2 separate regions of the Homo sapiens genome follow, and region 2 is linked to region 1. Evidence: fine-mapped expression QTL. A gene starts in region 1. The other region holds a variant in brackets. All regions are shown on one strand. Distances are between the middles of the regions.

Region 1 (8,339 bases):
AGCAGACGTGGAAAATACAGTCCCTGCCTTTGAGAAGGTCAAAGCCCAGAATATATTTTGTGTGACTTGTGTCTCTCTGGCTTCACTTCATGGTTATTTGGCATGGAGACAGAGGTCCTGCTTGGATAATGCTGAGATCTTTCCTGCCACTGATCCTGAAGGAATAGAAGCTGGGATTGGAAGGCAGCTTTTTACCCCTCCGTTCTACCTGTCCTGTCTTCTCTTCTCCAGCATATGTTTGTGAATGCATGGTTTGAGTTTGCCGCTCACAACGTCACCTGCAGGAGAAGTGACAGGCAGCGGCCACCAGGATTCTCCTGGGGCTCACGTGCCCCTTGTTCTCATTTTAGTTACCACCCATTCCTTCTTGAAATGGCCTCTCTGTTCTTTGAATTTCATCTGAACCGGGTGCACAGATATGGATTCATCAAAATCCTGAGCTCATGACCCACATTCATTATTGGTGCAGGAAGGCCTGCTCTGATTGAATAAGTAAGCTTCCTCTGATCTCATTCTTGGTCTCTTATAGAAACTGCCCCCAGACTCCACTCACCTCTCCCACAGGGAGTAATCTCAAGACCCTGGTTCTTTGCTCCTGCCTGGTATGCATGTTATTAGCATGTTCATATCTTTTTTTTTTTTTGAGACGGAGTTTTGCTCTGTCACTCAGACTGGAGTGCAGTGGCTCGATCTCGGCTCACTACAACCTCCGCCTCCTAGGTTCAAGCAATTCTCCTGCCTTAGCCTCCCGAGTAGCTGGGATTACAGGTGTGTGCCACCGTGCCCAGCTAATTTTTGTATTTTTAGTAAAGATGGGGTTTCACCATGTTGGCCAGGCTGGTCTTGAACTCCTGGCCTCAAGTGATCGACCCACCTTGGCCTCCCAAAGTGCTGGGATTACAGGCGTGAGCCACCGTGCCCGGCCGCATGTTCATATCTTAATATGATGTCATGAGCATGGGAAAGGGGTTCCTGTGCCTGGGGCAACCGCGTGGGACTCCTCTAGAAGCTGGTCTGGGCCAGGTCCTCTCCTGTACATGGTCAGGTGATGACACTGTCCTTGACCATTTCATTTCTGTCATCCTAAAAATGTGGACCCTCCCAGTGCTTTCCATTCTGTCTCAGTGCCACCTTGTAAATCTCACTGGCTATGACGCATCCCTCTAGATACTAAGTTAATTTGTTCAATTTCTGCTAAATTAACACACACAGTATTTCCAGGGATACATAATAACCACATGATTATGTTAATAGTTGTACAAGTCTTCTAACTAAATACATTATACTTATTCCTTAATTTAATATATTTATTTCCCTGCATTGAGGGTTCACTTCTTGTTAGTCACACCTTCCGCACAAGTTGCATCTGATGTTCTATGTATTTTTTGAACGATTTCTTCTTATTTGAAAAAATCTTTCTTTGAGGCCAGGCACAGTGGCTGATGCCTGTAATCCCAGCACTTTGGGAGGCTGAGGTGGGCTGATCACCTGAGGTCAGGCAGGAGTTTGAGACCAGCCTGGCCAACGTGGTGAAACCCTGTCTCTACTAAAAATACGAAAAAGTAACTGGGCGTGGTAGCATGTGCCCTTAATCCCAGCTACTCGGGAGGCTGAAGCAGAAGAATCGCTTAAATCCGGGAGGTGGAGACTGCAGTGAGCCAAGATGGTGCCATTGCACTCTAGCCTGAGAGACAGAGCAAGACTCCATCTCAGAAACAAAACAAAACAAAAACAAAAACAAAAAACAATCAACAACAAAAATAAAGGTGGCTGGGTGCGGTGGCTCACACCTGTAATCCCAGCATTTGGGAGGCCAAGGCGAGCGGATCACCTGAGGTCAGGAGTTCGAGACCAGCCTGGCCAACGTGGTGAAAACCCATCTCTACTAAAAATACAAAAATTAGCTGGGTTTGATGGCAAGTGCCTGTAATCCCAGCTACTTGGGAGGGTGAGGCAGGATAATTGCTTGAACCTGGGAGGTGGAGGTTGCAGCAAGTGGAGATTGTGCCATTATACTTCAGCCTGGGTGACAGAGCGAAACTCCGTCTCAAAACAAATAAATGAAGGTACATCTCTGCTTCCTTGTCTCTTGGGCCATCAGTCACGTAGGCACTTTGGGCGAGGCACTGAGCAGCACCAAGGGCATCTTCCGGCGTGTTCTGGGAGGCTTCCCCATCTCCCTGAAATGAGTTTATATAATCTCCTAGTAAAAGTCAATGCTGTTTCGCTGTGTGTTTCATGGAGTTTGGTTCCCTGGCCAGCTGGTCTGTGGGAACCAGAGCAGTTTGTGCCTAGATTCATTGCTGTCTCTTTTCTGGGCGACCAGCACGTTATGTGATTAGATGGGAATAGATATGTTTTGGTAAAGGGATCCCTGATTTAGTTGCAAAAAGCCAAGCCATTGGCTCCCTTTGACCTGTTCTTCTGGAAATAACCTCTTCTTGAGGGGTGGGCACCACCTTGGTATTACCTACACCCCAGTGTTCTTGGGCCACAGCTTTCTTGCCCATGAGGTCTGCAGAGCTGCCGTCCTGGTTTCTGAGGAAGGTGATTTTGTTGATCAGAGTTCAGATGGTGTTCTCCCAGATATTCGAAAATGGAGGGCCTTGTCCATCTCAAAGCGGTGGTTGGGGATGCAACTGATGTTGCCAGCCAGGCGTTGGGGATCAGCCAAGGCTTTTGATAAAGTTGGAAGAACTTCAAGCTCCTTTGGACCAACCTTCCTTCCTTCCTTCCTTTCTTTCTCTCTTCCCTCCTCCCTCCCTCCCTTCCTTCCCTCTTTCCTTCCTTTCCTCTTTCCTAAATAGAGACAGGGTCTTTCTCTGTCCCTCAGGCTGGAGGGCAGTGGTGTACTTATAGCTCACTGCAGCCTCAAACTCCTGGGCTCAGCGATCCTTGCACTTCAGGCTCCGGAGAAGCTGGCACTATAGGTGCATACCACCATGCCTGGCTAATTTTGTTATTTTTAAAATTTTTTTGTAGAGACAGGGTCTTTCTATGTTGCCCATACTGGTCTCGAACTTCTGGGCTCAAGCAATCCTGCCTCAGCCTCCCAAAGTGCTGGGATTATAGGCGTGAGCCACTGCACCCAGCCAGATTTTTATTTCTGTTCGGGGAGAGTGGCTTCCTTTCGTTTCTCCTGTCCAGGGTGTCATTGCCTATGCCAGCCTGAGTGTGTGGGCCTCCTGTGGGAATCGCCACACTGTCCTGTTAGAGCAAAGCTTGCAGCCAACTCTTGCCCCCAGTGCTGCAATGCAACGCAGATATTTTTTAGCTTTGTTTTAAAAATAATATGGCAGATGGCGAAGCAGGACCTGACTCTCGCCTTCGCCCTATGTCTTTTCGTCTGCTCTTTCTCCACCGAGTCCTGTCCCTCAGCATTTGCTCCTCCTGTTCCTTCTACTTCCATCGCTCTGCATTTTCACCATTTGTCTTTTAGAAGACATGGTTTAACATTTTTTCTAAGTTATATAAATAATATAAAAATACATTTCTGAAAGAATATAAATAATGCACAACTATCTAGAGTACAAAAGACAAGTGTTCCCTCCTAGCGATCCTGCTGTGAAGCGTTTGGTATATACCCTTCCAGGTATTTTTTATGCATTTGCATATAGGCAGGCATATATATACACACACACATGCCTAACGCACATCTATTTTTAACACAAATGGGATAATTTATACTGTTCAGATTGTTTTGAGACTTTGCATTCTTCAGTCATGAATATATGTCGACTTCCTCCTCTTTCACACTCTTCCAAATCTTCCCCATCCTTCAAGGTGTCATTCATTCTTTGAGAAAGCCCCTAGTGGCGCTGTCAATAGTGAGTTTTGGTAGGTACGTTTCTAATGTTCTTTAAATTCCTGTAATCCTCTTCCCCTCTGGACCGCTCACTTTGTCTAATCTTATGTTGTTCTTTGTTTATTCATTAGTTAATTAATTCCGTTGAGCTACACTCAGTTATTTGGCCCCCAAGAAGTTTGTCGTCGGTGGAAGACACAGACATACTAAACATACCTTGCCCTGGAGGTTCATGAGGGGGTGGTAGATGGCAGGCTGTTGATGCACAGTAGTTGAATGAAAGAATGAGCAATGAGTAAGAAATAGAATTCTGTAGGTATCAAGTATAATGATGGCACAATGGTGGGGTTAGTTACCTGCTGGGGTATGTCATGGAAGGTTTCAAAGAGGAGACGTTTGACTTGAGTTTTTAAGGATGAGTTGAAGTTGATCAGGAAGATGGGCCTGTTAGGCAGCGGGAATGGTGGTATCAATCGACATGGTTTGCTCACAATATTCTCATTGCTAGTTTCATGGATGTATCCTGTGGCTTCTCCATGAGATAATGAAGTTCTTGAAAGTGGGAGTGTCATTTACACTCCTACCTGCAGACAGGTATACTGGCACTTATTACATACCAAATCCTATTCCATGAGCTGTGCATGTAGTAGCAAGCACTGATGTAGGTTCTCATGTCTCCATTTTAGAGATGACAAGACTAAGGCACAGATAAGGTAGGCAATATCCCCAAGTCTCCATGTCCCCATGATTAGTAGGAGATGGAGCTGTAAGTCTCTTTTTAGAGTCTTCATGTCCTCACCTTTATTTCTTTACATTTTGTATTTTTAATTTTTTTAAGAGACAGTCTCGCTGTGTTGCCCAGACTGGAGTGCAGTGGTGCAGTCATAGCTCGCTGCAGCCTCCGACTTGTGGGCTCAAGCAGTCCTCCCACCTCAGCCTCCTGAGTAGCTGGGATTACAGGCATGCACCACCACACTTGGCTAACTCAAATTTTTATAGAGATGGGGTTTCACTATATGGCCCAGGCTGGTCTCAAACTCCTGGGCTCAAGTGATCCTCCTGCCTCGGCCTCCCATAGTGCTGGGATTACAAGTATATGAGCTGCTATGCCTGGCCCATATCCTCATCTTTAAATGGGTCTAGGAATGCCCACCAAAGAGAGTTGTATGAGGTTTTAAACAGTAAATGCCTCTAAATCATCCAAAGTAGGGAATAAAATATCAGCTTATATCATAAACTTGGTTAAAATAGCACTCTCCTGCTTTATTTTTCCTCATAATACTAATGCTACTTGGCATAGAGTTGTTTATTTGCTCTCTCCTTTGTCCATTTTATGTATGGCTGTGTCCCCAGCACCTGATACAGAGTATAAAGCATTGGCTGAATGCGTGAATCTTAGTTCCCGCTTTTCACCTTAGCATCCTGACTACCGATGCCCTGAACACACATGGTGAATTTGGCTGAAATGAAGCATTCTGTGCCTGCCCCACAAACCACCAAGGGACTGTGGGTTTATTTGTCTCAAGATGGTCAACACTGCTGTTTTCACATTTTACTTGCTGTCAAATATAAAGAGATATCATATGTTGCCCGCCTCTGGTTTTCCTGATGTCTCAATTTAAGTGGTTTCCAATTTGGGTATGAAATTATCCATCAGTCACAGAGAGAACTGGTGCCTTCAGCAGTGGCTGTTGGAATAAGCCAGGGCTTAACTGGGGAAGCTAATGGTGGAGGAGCAAGGGCTGGCTAGCAGAGGTTTGGCCCTGCTCCTCCAGGTCCCCTCTGGAATACCACTTCTCCCCACTGGATGGTGGGCTGTGTCTAGCCCATTCCCCAAGATCCAGTTTGGATGACACTTCACCTATTTATTCATTGGATGCTAATAGTGTCTTCCCTACGCCAGGGACTGACCTAGGCATCAGGGATGCAGAGAGCAGGCCTTGGTCACTGTCCCCTGGACTCACACAGTCTGCAGCCTGGTGGAGGAGACACCATGTGAGCTGAGCTATAATGACTGAATCCAGTCCCTCACCAGATGCAGTAACCTACAAGTGTCTGTTGCTCAGAATGTCTTTATTTTGATCAGTCACTTCCACAGAGGACTGCCCAAAGAGACGCCTCTGTCCAGCTCTCGGGTCTGTCTGTGTGGAGTACGAGGCGTGTAGCCCTGGTGATCGTAGAGTGATGTTAGATGTCTCAGGGTCAGGTGTTGAATAATATGGGCTCTGCTTGGGAAGGTGTTCCCCTTTTCCTTTTGGCCATGCTGGTGAGGTCTGAGGTTGATGCTAGCCCGGCTTTAACTCTTGGAGACCCTGACAAAGTGAGTGTGGGCCTCTGGGTCATGGTGCCGTCGGCCACTGGGAAGTTCCGAGCTCTCAGATGCGGCTGCAGTAGACTCCGCTCAGAAAGTCCAGACGCCTTGAGGCCAAGGCTCACCCCCAGATCAGCTGCAGGAGAATCTCTTCAATGGGACCTGGGCACCTCTCACTGTTTTGCATGATTCTGATGCTCCTGAGGTTGAGAACCACTAACACTTAGGATTTAATGACATTTGGCTTTCATCAGATCCAGTTGCCTTCTAGTGATACTGGCTTTCTGTTTGCTAGAGTGATACATACTTTCCTTTTTAAGTAAATGTTATAAGTGAAAAAAGATGAATGGTGTAATCCCACCCCAGGGTCACTTGAGCCCAGGAGCTCCAGACTAGCCTGGGCAACATAGTGAGACCCTGTCTTAAAAAAAAATGCATGGATTGAAAAGGCAACGTTATTCAGCAACAGTGCAAGTGGGAGGCGAGTGTAGCAAGAATCCTGGTGGTGCTTTGTGATGCACCGGGGTTTGGGGAACACTCCTCTAGATTTTATCCATGGATTGCAGTTTTAGCCCCCATTATTTTGGCGCCCATAGACTCATTGGGAATGATTTGACATTATGCCAATGACTCATTAAGTGCAAACAGCAGAAATAGCTAAATGAAACAATTTAGAAATAGCTAAAAGGTACAATTTAGTGATTGTATCTTTCTCTGTGTAACAAATTGTCCCAACACTGAGAGGAAAAAGGACATTTGGCAGTGACAGCATTTACCATCTCACAGTTTCTGTGGGCCTGGAGTCCTCGTGCCACTCAGCTGGTTCTCTCTCCAGGGTCTCTCCCAGGCTGCAACCACAGCCTCAGCCGGTGACTGCAGACACCTCAGGGCTCTCCTAGGGAAGGATCTGCGTCCAAGCTAACCCGTGTGGTTGTTGGCAGGATTCAGTTTCTTACGGACTCTTGGACTGAGGGCCTCAGTTACTCTCCAGCTGTTGACTGGAGGCCACCCTCGGTTTCTTGCCTATCCAGGCCTCTTCACTGCGGCCAAAGAAAGCAAAAGAGAGAGACCAACTAAATGGGAATCAGGGTGTTTTGTAGTCTAAGCTTTAGAGGTAGCATTCTGGCCGGGAGCAGTGGCTCACGCCTGTAATTCTAGCATTTTGGGAGGCTAAGGTGGGGGTGCATTTGAGGTCAGGAGTTCGAGACCAGCCTGGCCAACATGGTGAAGCCCCATCTCTACTAAAAACACAAAAATTAGCCAGGCGGTAGTTACACACGCCTGTGATCCCAGCTACTCAGGAGGCTGAGGCAGGAGAATCACTTGAGCCCGGGAGGCGGAGGTTGCAGTGAGCCAAGATCGACCCACTACATTCCAGTCTGGGTGACAGAGCGAGACTCCGTCTCAAAAAAAAAAAAAAAAAAAAAGTGGCATTCCATGATTTCTACTATATTCTACTCTAATCTGTTCATTAGGACAGAGGCAAGTCACTAGGGCCAAGCCACACTCAGGGGATTACCCAGGAGGTGAGGACCAGGAACCGGAGCCACGGGGTCTGTTTTAGAAGGCTGCACACCACAGGAATATCACTGAAGACAGCCCCCACGCCACGTCCCTGGCACCTTTACTGGCCCCCCGGGAGCGAGTTGTCACAGGCTGAATGCCAGGTGAAGCCGAGCAATCGCTAGTTATTTTATGGACGAAGTGAGTCTTACAACCGTGTTTGCACTGTACTTTGGTCACAAATCATCTGAGCCAAAATTACTGCTTCCCTGTAATTGATTATGTAGGAATGATTGATTGGTCGTATTGAAAATCTGTGGCAGGGGCCAGGCATGGTGGCTCATACCTGTAATCTCAACACTTTGGGAGGCCGAGGCAGGTGGATCATTTGAGGTCAGGAGTTTGAGACTAGTCTGGCCAACATGGAGAAACCCCATCTCTACTAAAAATACAAAAATTAGCTGGGCATGGCGGCTGGCACCTATAATCCCAGCTACTCAGGAGGCGGAGGCAGGGAGAATTGCTTGAACCTGGGAGGCAGAGGTTGCAGTGAGCCGAGATCGCACCACTGCACTCCAGCCTGGGCAACAAACCAAGACTCTGTCTCAAAAAAAAAAAAAAAAAAAAAAGAACAATTCTATGGCAGGAGTTTCTGCAGACTGACTCACCCTGGCCTCTTCTTCAATAACGTACTTTGTTTCCCTTCTCTTTCCTCTGTCT
Region 2 (8,339 bases), 150 kb before region 1:
TGCTCCAGGAAGCCATCCATGATTTCCCTGCCATCATTTTTGCTAGTTGGTCACTCCCAGGTCTATTGCTGCCTATTTTATACTTTAAAAATGTAATCTCTTTATTTCTGTGGTGACAGATTCAAGAAACATTAGCCAGGATATAAGGTCATGAGAGTAGGGACTGAGTTGATGTTGATACTGTTGTGCACCTAGCTTCCAAAACAGTGCCTGGTCCCTGGTGGGTTATCAGTAGACATTTGATGAATAAATGAGTGAGTGAATGCATGAATGAGTTTGCTGAGCACCCAGTAATAATAGCCAACATGCATTAAGCACCATTGCTAGACCCTGTGCTAACTGCTTCATGGCAACTGTCCTGTGAGGTGGGTACTATTATCCCCATTTACACGGGAGAACTGAAGCTTAGAAAGGTCAGAGACCGGCTGGGCACGGCGGCTTCCACCTGTAATCCCAGCACTTTGAGAGGCTGAGGTAGGAGGAGGGTTGCTTAAGGCCAGGAGTTTGAGACGCAATCTCTACAGAAAAAAAAAAAAAAAATCAGAAGGTGTATAATGGGGCCAGACTCTCTGGGCTAAAGTCCCCTCCATGCACTCTATGTAAGTATTAGATTGTTATCATCAAGCGCTTTGCCCCAGGTGCACAGCTGGGGAGTGGCAGGGCCTGGATCTCTGATGTCCTGATACAGAAGTGAGTAATACTCTATATCTACCCACCTGGGGCTCATAGACTGGGGTGACTGGGTAGGCACAGGAACCTGGGCTCCAGAGGGGGGTGCCTGGTCTTTTTAGTTCAAGATTTCTGCCAGGCAGTGGAACAGGCAGGCAGGTGGACCTTGAGTCCTATGATGCCCTAGTTGGGTGCACTTAATTAGAGTCACTGGGAGGCATTTGAGGTACGTGCTGTACCCAGAATTCCTCAGCTTGCACAGCTTCCCCTTACCCTTTGTTTCTGATTTTGTCCTCGTAATCTCACTGTTTTGGGGAATGAATTCCTCCAAAAACACCCCGTTTCCTGCCTGTGGAGCCAATTAAGCCAAGCAAGGCTGTACCTTTAATTACTGCTGCCCTCATTTGCATCTGGCTGCCCTCATTATAGTGCTATTAGCAGAGTGCAGGGGTCCTCCTGCTGGCCCATCAGGAGTGGTGCGTGCACAGTTGTGGGGCCTTGCTTTGGTGGTCTTTGCTGCCTTCTGGGCAAAATGAAGGATTTGGAGTAGACAGCAAGCAGGCATACATCCTGGGCCAGAAGCAGCCTGCGGAGCTCATCGTGGCTTGCCTTAAATTGTTTCTCAACAATAAAGTTGTTGAAAAACAATTTGTGTTTTCTTTCTCCTTATTAAAAACCCAAAATTATATTCATTATAGAAAATTAAAGAAGATAGACACAAGAGAAAAAGGAGAAAATAAAATATCATTGATAAACCCTCAAGCACTGTTAATATTTTGGAATATATTTTTCCGAGTAGGTATGGCACTTTGCCACAAACAGTCTTGGGAGAAGCATTCTCTGCCTGAAGGGCTTTGTGACCCCTCCCCTGACCCTTTCCTTGACACATGGACTTTTTATGGGCTCAGAAGAAATATGATGGCACAAAAAGCAATAAATCATTGGTAGGGAGTTTGGGAAAATCAGATGAAGGTACAATGTGAGTGTACATAACATCAAGCACCTGCCAGCAGCCAGCCACACGTGTGTCCGAGATGACAAGAAGTCGGGTTTGATGGGCATGCAAGCTGACCACTGGTCTTGTCTGCTCCTTCATGTCTTCCTAAGGAAGGTGAGACAGCATTCATTATGCAGCCTGTACTGGGAAGCCTTATAGCATGAAGACTTAGATTGTGGGTGTTGGCCGAGAAAGTTCTAGCTCTGCCCTTTGCTAGCAGTGTGACCTTGGGCACATTGCCTGCCCATGTGCCCTCCCCACCCCACCCACCCCTACATCTCGTTTTGGATCATTTCTGTTGCTGAGTCTTCAAATTCACTCGCTTTCTCCATTTCTGTTGCTAAGTCTTCAAGTTCATTCATCTTCTCCATTTCTAGTGCTGAGTCTTCAAGTTCACTTGTCTTCTCTTCTGCAGTTTGCCCACGACACTTTCATGAGGCCACAGCTAGCTGCAAGGGATGCTGGGAAACATAGTCTCTTTGTTTTCCACCTAGGTGGCCAAGCACCCAGCAAAAATTGCTGATTTTCTTGCTAAACACAAAAAGAATGGGTATTAGGGGACACCTGCTGGGTTTCTTTTGTTTTTGTTTTGAGACAGGGTGTCCCTTCATTGCCCAGGCTGGAGTGCAGTGGTGTGATCATGGCTTACCTCATCCTTGACTTCCCAGGCTCAGGTGATTCTCCCATCTCAGCCTCTGAAGTAGCTGGGACTATAGCACACCTGGATAATTTTTTTGTATTTTTTGTAGAGACAGGGTCTCACGATGTTTCCCAGGCTGGTCTTGAACTCCTGGGCTTGAGCAGTCCTCCTGCCTTGGCCTCCCAAAGTTCTGGGATTATAGGCGTGAGCCACCATGCCCAGCCCCCAACACCTGCTGTTTCTGCCACACTTGTTTGTTAGCAGCCACTGTGCTTTTGATGAGCCATCTGGGAGGAGGTTCTGGCTTTGCTAGAGATACGGTGATGGGGTCAGTTCAGTGGAGACATGTGAAATATGGTCTCTACTCAATACTTTGAAACCTACAGGTGGTAGTGTGTCTAACACCTGTAGACAGGTAGTACAGGTAGTATATCTACCACCTGTAGTATGTCTGCCACCCGTAGGTGAGGCAGTGACTCATCCCTGTTTGGGTGAAACAGGATTGATCCTTCTCTTAATGTTTCAGCAGTAAGATGGCCAGCTGCTTTTAGTCCCATGCTTATTTCCCCTGTAAATCTAGGGTGTTCTTGGAGCATGAATGATTGGATTTACCATGGGCATATGTGCTGTTTATCTGCTATTGATCAGTGCCAAGTGAATTTCATTCAACTGGAATTCAGACCCAGGTCTAAATCTTGGCTTCATGCTCATGTCATTTGGGGATGGCATAACTCAGCCTCATCCTCCATCTATAAAACGTGGATGGTAACTGCCTGGCTTACTGAACAGTAGATCCAGGCTTGTGAGTGTAAGTTTTAAACTACTCTTTCTGTATAATTTGGTTCCTCATTGGGAGACAATAAAATTTTTCTTGGTTTCCCATGACTTGTTATCACTTTTCCCACCTTTTGGGGACAATTTTTAGCTGGAGAGTTCCAATTATGACAGTTGACATCCAATTAAATATGAATTATGGAAGGCTCTATTATTTGCAATGATAAAAAAATTGTTTGGATATATTACAGAGAATTGATTTCAGTGGAAGTAGACACTGGAGCTTGTACTTCATACTTTGATTTTTTAAATAATTTAATACTTTATTAGATTTTTAAAAATGAGTAATATATGCCCTTTATAACAAGTCTAGCAGTGCAGAGGTACGTAAAGAAGTTAATCTCTCCCGATGCTACCCTTTTTAGATCACCAGAGGTAATCACACAAATCTACTCCACAAACAAACGTATATCTATTCTTCCTATTTCTTTTCCAAAAATGGAATTACAGTCTATGTCAGGAGTTGGGAAACCATGGCCCATGGGCATGCCACCTTTTTAAATAAAGTTTTATTGGATCATGGCCATATTCATTCATTATTTCCATCTCCGCTTTTGAGCTATAACACAAGAGTTGAATAGTTCTTGCAGAGACCTGTGGCCTGCAAACCCCAAAATATTTACCATCTGGCCCGCTGAAGAAAATGTGTGCTGATCCCTGGTCAACCTTGCTTTTTTCAGGTAAGAGTGTATCACTGAACAGTCAGGAATTTTCCTCCTGATCAAAAGATGTATAGCTAAATCATTAATATCTGCATATTAGAGTCCATCATGTGGCTATGCTATAATTTTTCAAATCATTTCCTCATAGATGGAATTTAGGTTGTTTCCAGGTTTTTATTTATTATATATTATTTATTTTTTTAGACACAGTCTCGCTTTGTTGCCCAGTCTGGAGTGCAGTGGCGCGACCTCGGCTCACTGCAAGCTCCACCTGCCGGGTTCACGCCATTCTCCTGCCTCAGCCTCCCAAGTAGCTGGGACTAAAGGCACCTGCCACCAGTCCTGGCTAATTTTTTGTATTTTTAGTAGAGACGGGGTTTCACTGTGTTAGCCAGGTTGGTCTCGATCTCCTGACCTTGTGATCTGCCCGCCTTGGCCTCCCAAAGTGCTGGGATTACAGGTGTGAGCCACCGCGCCTGGCCCTGTTTCCAGGTTTTTGCTACTACAAAGAGGATTGTAGTAAGCTGTCTCCTTATATCCTGGGGCCTTTTGGCAGGAAGGAGGTTCAGAAGTGCTGTTGCTGATTCAAAGCGTGGGTGCAGCGTCCATCATTTGGTTTGCAAACCACATGTTATATCGTCAGTTGTCATCTTTGATCTACATCATCTTTTTTTTTTTTTTGATGTAACATCTTCTATAAAAGTGGTTTTCAGTCCTTTTTGACTGTGGCCCACAGTAAGAAATACTCTTTTAAGCATACACATATGTGTATATAGTCATTGAGACACAACCTTCTGGGAACAATACTTAACCTTTATTACGTGCAGAACGTTCTCATGTTTTATGTCCTGTTCTACTCTGTTTTAGCAAACGCCACTTGTGACTTACTGATTATTTTCGCTACCTTGCTAATGACATACAACCTGTAGTGTGAAGGCAGTTGTTGTGTAGAAAGGGGTAATATTCTGGAATGCCGTGGTGTACTTAAGTTTGATGTTCTTGTCTGTTCGTGAAGACCATTCTTCCCTTTCTCTCTTCCTTATTGAATGTATAAACATGTTTTCTCTTATTGAAAATTCATGCGTATTTTAACACATAATGTTTTTCTAATTGCAAAGTGACGCACAGACCAGTTTCCTCTGGAAATGAGGATTGTCCTGTGGTTTTTGTGTTTCACTGAAAAGAGTGGATTTAGGGGCTTTGCTACCACCATGCAGTGTAGACATACCTCTTGGCCAAGCCACCTTATAGGTGATTTGTCCTATCTTGGGTCTGGCTCAATCACTCGTACATTGATC[C/T]GGGTACCCCTCACTCCACAGCCCCCCAGCGCACACACGTGTACACACACGTGCACGTGCACGCACACACACCCCACCGGTACCTGTCCCGGCCTCAACTCTCTCTGTGTCCCTGACTGAGTGTCCTGCTTTGTTGGCTTTGGCCCAGACAAGCCTTGAAAACTGATTCTGCTGTTACTCCAGGGTCTCTTGCGACCTGCAGCCTTATTTTAGTAAGAAGAACCCCCACCCTTTCGCCACCGCGCTGTGAGTTGGAGGTAACAAGAATGTGTGTTATTTCACAGAGCTGAGAAGCTTGGGGTGCAGGTGTGGCTGGATCCAGGTGCTCAAACAGTTTACCAGGAAGATGCATCACTTTTTGTGTTGGTTCTGCTTCCAGTGTAGGCTTATTTCATTTTCAGTCAGGTTTTCTTTATGGGAGGGAGGGAGGGAGGAAGGGAGGGAGGGAGGGAGGGAGAGCAACAGATTCACAGGCACAAAAGCCCTGGGAGGTTAGGGGCCTGCATAGGACCCAGGGTGGCAGGAGGAAGAGGTGAGAGATGAACTGGAGAGACAGGCAGGGGTCAAGCAGGCAGACTCTGCGTGACCTGCTATGAGGCTGTGATTTTATCCTCAGGCTAGGGGGACCTGGTGAAAAATGGAAAGAGTGAAATGACCTGAGCCAATTTGCATGTTTCTTCCCTGCTCGTGCTGATCTCCCCTGCATGTTGCGTTGTTTCTGTGCACATCAGAGACTGGATTCTGCCTTTAAAGGGATGGTTACTTTTAGGCACCTAAAATATTTTTCTTTTCTTTTCCTTTTAATTTCTGACATTGTTTGAATTTAATGATTCATATTACGAATTATTCATGAAAATGATCTTTTAAGCTTCTTATAATAGCTGAAATTATCCGTCATTAGATGCTGACAGTTCCTGTGATGGGTGTAATTATAAAAACATATTCTTAGGCTGGCTATATTCTGCAGTGTTAAAATTACGCAAATGAGCAAGGGATAAGAATAGCAGCTGAGTAGGATGGTCAGGTTTTATGGGAGAAGGGGGGTGGTAGCGCTGCACATTTTCTAAAAATGAATAAATATGTGCTGTACACATTAAGTACGTCTTTATTACAGTCTGCCTCGATGCTCACCCTCTCTTCATTGGCAGGGGAGCAAATTAATTTTAGCGCCCTGAATTGTTTGTAGTTCTTGCCCATATATGAATCGTATGATGAAGTTTTTTTTTCTTCTTCTTCTTCATTCCACTCGGCATTTTCTGCGAGGCACACGTAGTAATCTCTGGTACTTCTGAAGAATGGCAAACTTGGCACTGATACGCAGCAGGCTGAGTGGGGAGGGGAGAGATTGGAGGGTGGGGGCAGAAAGCCGGGGGTCACTATCTAGATCACTGAGCCTGGGAAATCAGGCCCTCGTCTTGTTCCTGTCCAAAGGGTGACCAGATGGACCAGGTGTGGTGGCTCAGCCCCGTAATCCCAGCACTTCGGGAGGCCGAGGTGGGTGGATTACCTGAGGTCAGGAGTTTGAGATCAGCCTGGCCATCATGGTAAAACCCCATCTCTACTAAAAATACAAAATTAGCTGGGCATGGTGGCACACATCTGTAATTGCAGCTACTTGGGAGGCTGAGGCAGGAGAATCACTTGAACCCGGGAGGTGGAGGTTGCAGTAAGCCAAGATGGCGCCACTGCACACCAGCCTGGGCAACAGAGCAAGACTGTCTCAAAAATGAACAAACAAAAAAAGGATGAACAGATGGGCTATTCATGGCTTATAGTGACCAGCAACTTGGGTTTAACTTTGGTGGCTTTGTGGGGAAGTATTGGGAAGGGAAGGACTGAACATCCGTCGCATTTGCTGGAAAATTGTGGCGCCCAGGGCCCTGCATGCGTTGGTCCTGTCTGCCTGCTCTCCAGCGTGTCTGTTGAAAATGCCCCAACTGCCTCTTCCCCGCATGATCCCGTGCTTCCTTGGGTGCACTAAGGAACTCCCAAGAGAGGGGTTGTTTATTCCAGGGCACTGTCACTGACCGTACCATCTCATTTCAACTCATCAGCAGTGACGAGCAAGTGAGCTCTCCCTTCTCCCTGCCTTGGAACTGGACCTTTCCACGTTAGGTAGAGAGGATGATAAAGAATAAAAGCTAAAATTTAAGTAGTGCTAACTCCATGCCGGGCACTGTTTGAAGATCTGTACATTGACTCATTGAATCGTCACATAAGCCTACATAGGTAGGTGCTATTACGATCTTCATTCTGCAGATGCAGAAACACAGAGAGCTTAAGTCACTTGCCCAAGGTCACAGAGCAAATTAGGAAACAGAAACAAGCCTGGTAAAGTTACATTGATTTCTGATGGGTGCAGGGGTGAGGGTGGGTTGAGGGGGTTGTATAGTGGGAGAAATGGTTGATCTGCCCACTGAAACATTCTCAAACAAGCGGGCTTGAAATTGATGTCAGCCCATCCTCTAAGCCTCTCCTTTCCTTGTTAGCTCTTCCACAGTGGACATGCATTGTTTTTATAAGGGAAAAAGACCACTTGATAAAAGACAACCACCAGCTTGTATGTTTACATCGAATGGACATTCAGTTGGGGCAGCTTCCCGCTGGGCTTCTGGTGCAGGCAGGAAGAAGAGTGGGGCTGGCTACTTCATATCTGGGTGAAGCTTCACAGTTTGCAGAGTGCTGTCTTTTTTCTTTGAGACAGAGTCTCTCTCTGTCACCCAGGCTGGAGTGCAATGGTGCAATCTTGGCTCCCTGCAACTTCTGTCTCCTGGGTTCCAGCAATTCTTCTGCCTCAGCCTCTTGGGTAGCTAGGACTACAGGCACCCGCCACCATGCCCAGCTAATTTTTGTATTTTTAGTAGAGATGAGGTTTTGCCATGTTGGCCAGTCTGTTCTCAAACTCCCGACCTCAGGTGATCCGCCCACCTCAGACTCCCAAAGTGCTGGGATTACAGGTGTAAGCCACGACGCCCAGCCTGCAGAGTGCTGTTTTCATTTGGATGCTTTGACAGCCCTTTGAGGCCACAGGTGTAGATATTATTCTCACTTTGAAAGTGGCTAAACTGAGGCTCAATGCAGGGCTCTGCAACTGGCAAGTGGCGGAGTGGGCAACTGAGTTTAGGTCTTTGGATTCTAAATTTGGGACTCTGGCTCTTGTCTCCTTTTGACACTAGTGATCTGAAATGCGTTTCCTCAGTGTGAGTTGTCATTATGAGTAGGGTTTCTGGAGTCAGACC

What was found. PIP is the estimated chance that this variant, and not a neighbour inherited with it, causes the effect.
Region 2: its variant is fine-mapped to the expression of SNX29-AS2 in testis (GTEx, PIP 0.98).

Annotation. Positions count from the first base shown.
Region 1 is chr16:12,368,511-12,376,849 of GRCh38, forward strand. It overlaps SNX29-AS2 (SNX29 antisense RNA 2), which reads right to left and starts at 4,091. Exons shown (of 2, transcript NR_188406.1): 1 at 4,022-4,091. All of the region lies in intron 16 of SNX29 (sorting nexin 29), which reads left to right. LOC105371087 (a long non-coding RNA gene) reads left to right here and starts at 1,996. Exons shown (of 3, transcript XR_933083.4): 1 at 1,996-4,399; 2 at 4,492-4,518; 3 at 5,159-7,537.
Region 2 is chr16:12,214,790-12,223,128 of GRCh38, forward strand. The region is part of intron 14 of SNX29 (sorting nexin 29); the gene reads left to right. Among named protein-coding and RNA genes, the nearest start is that of SNX29-AS2, 150 kb to the right of the region's middle. The variant C/T (reference allele first, on the strand shown) is at 5,101.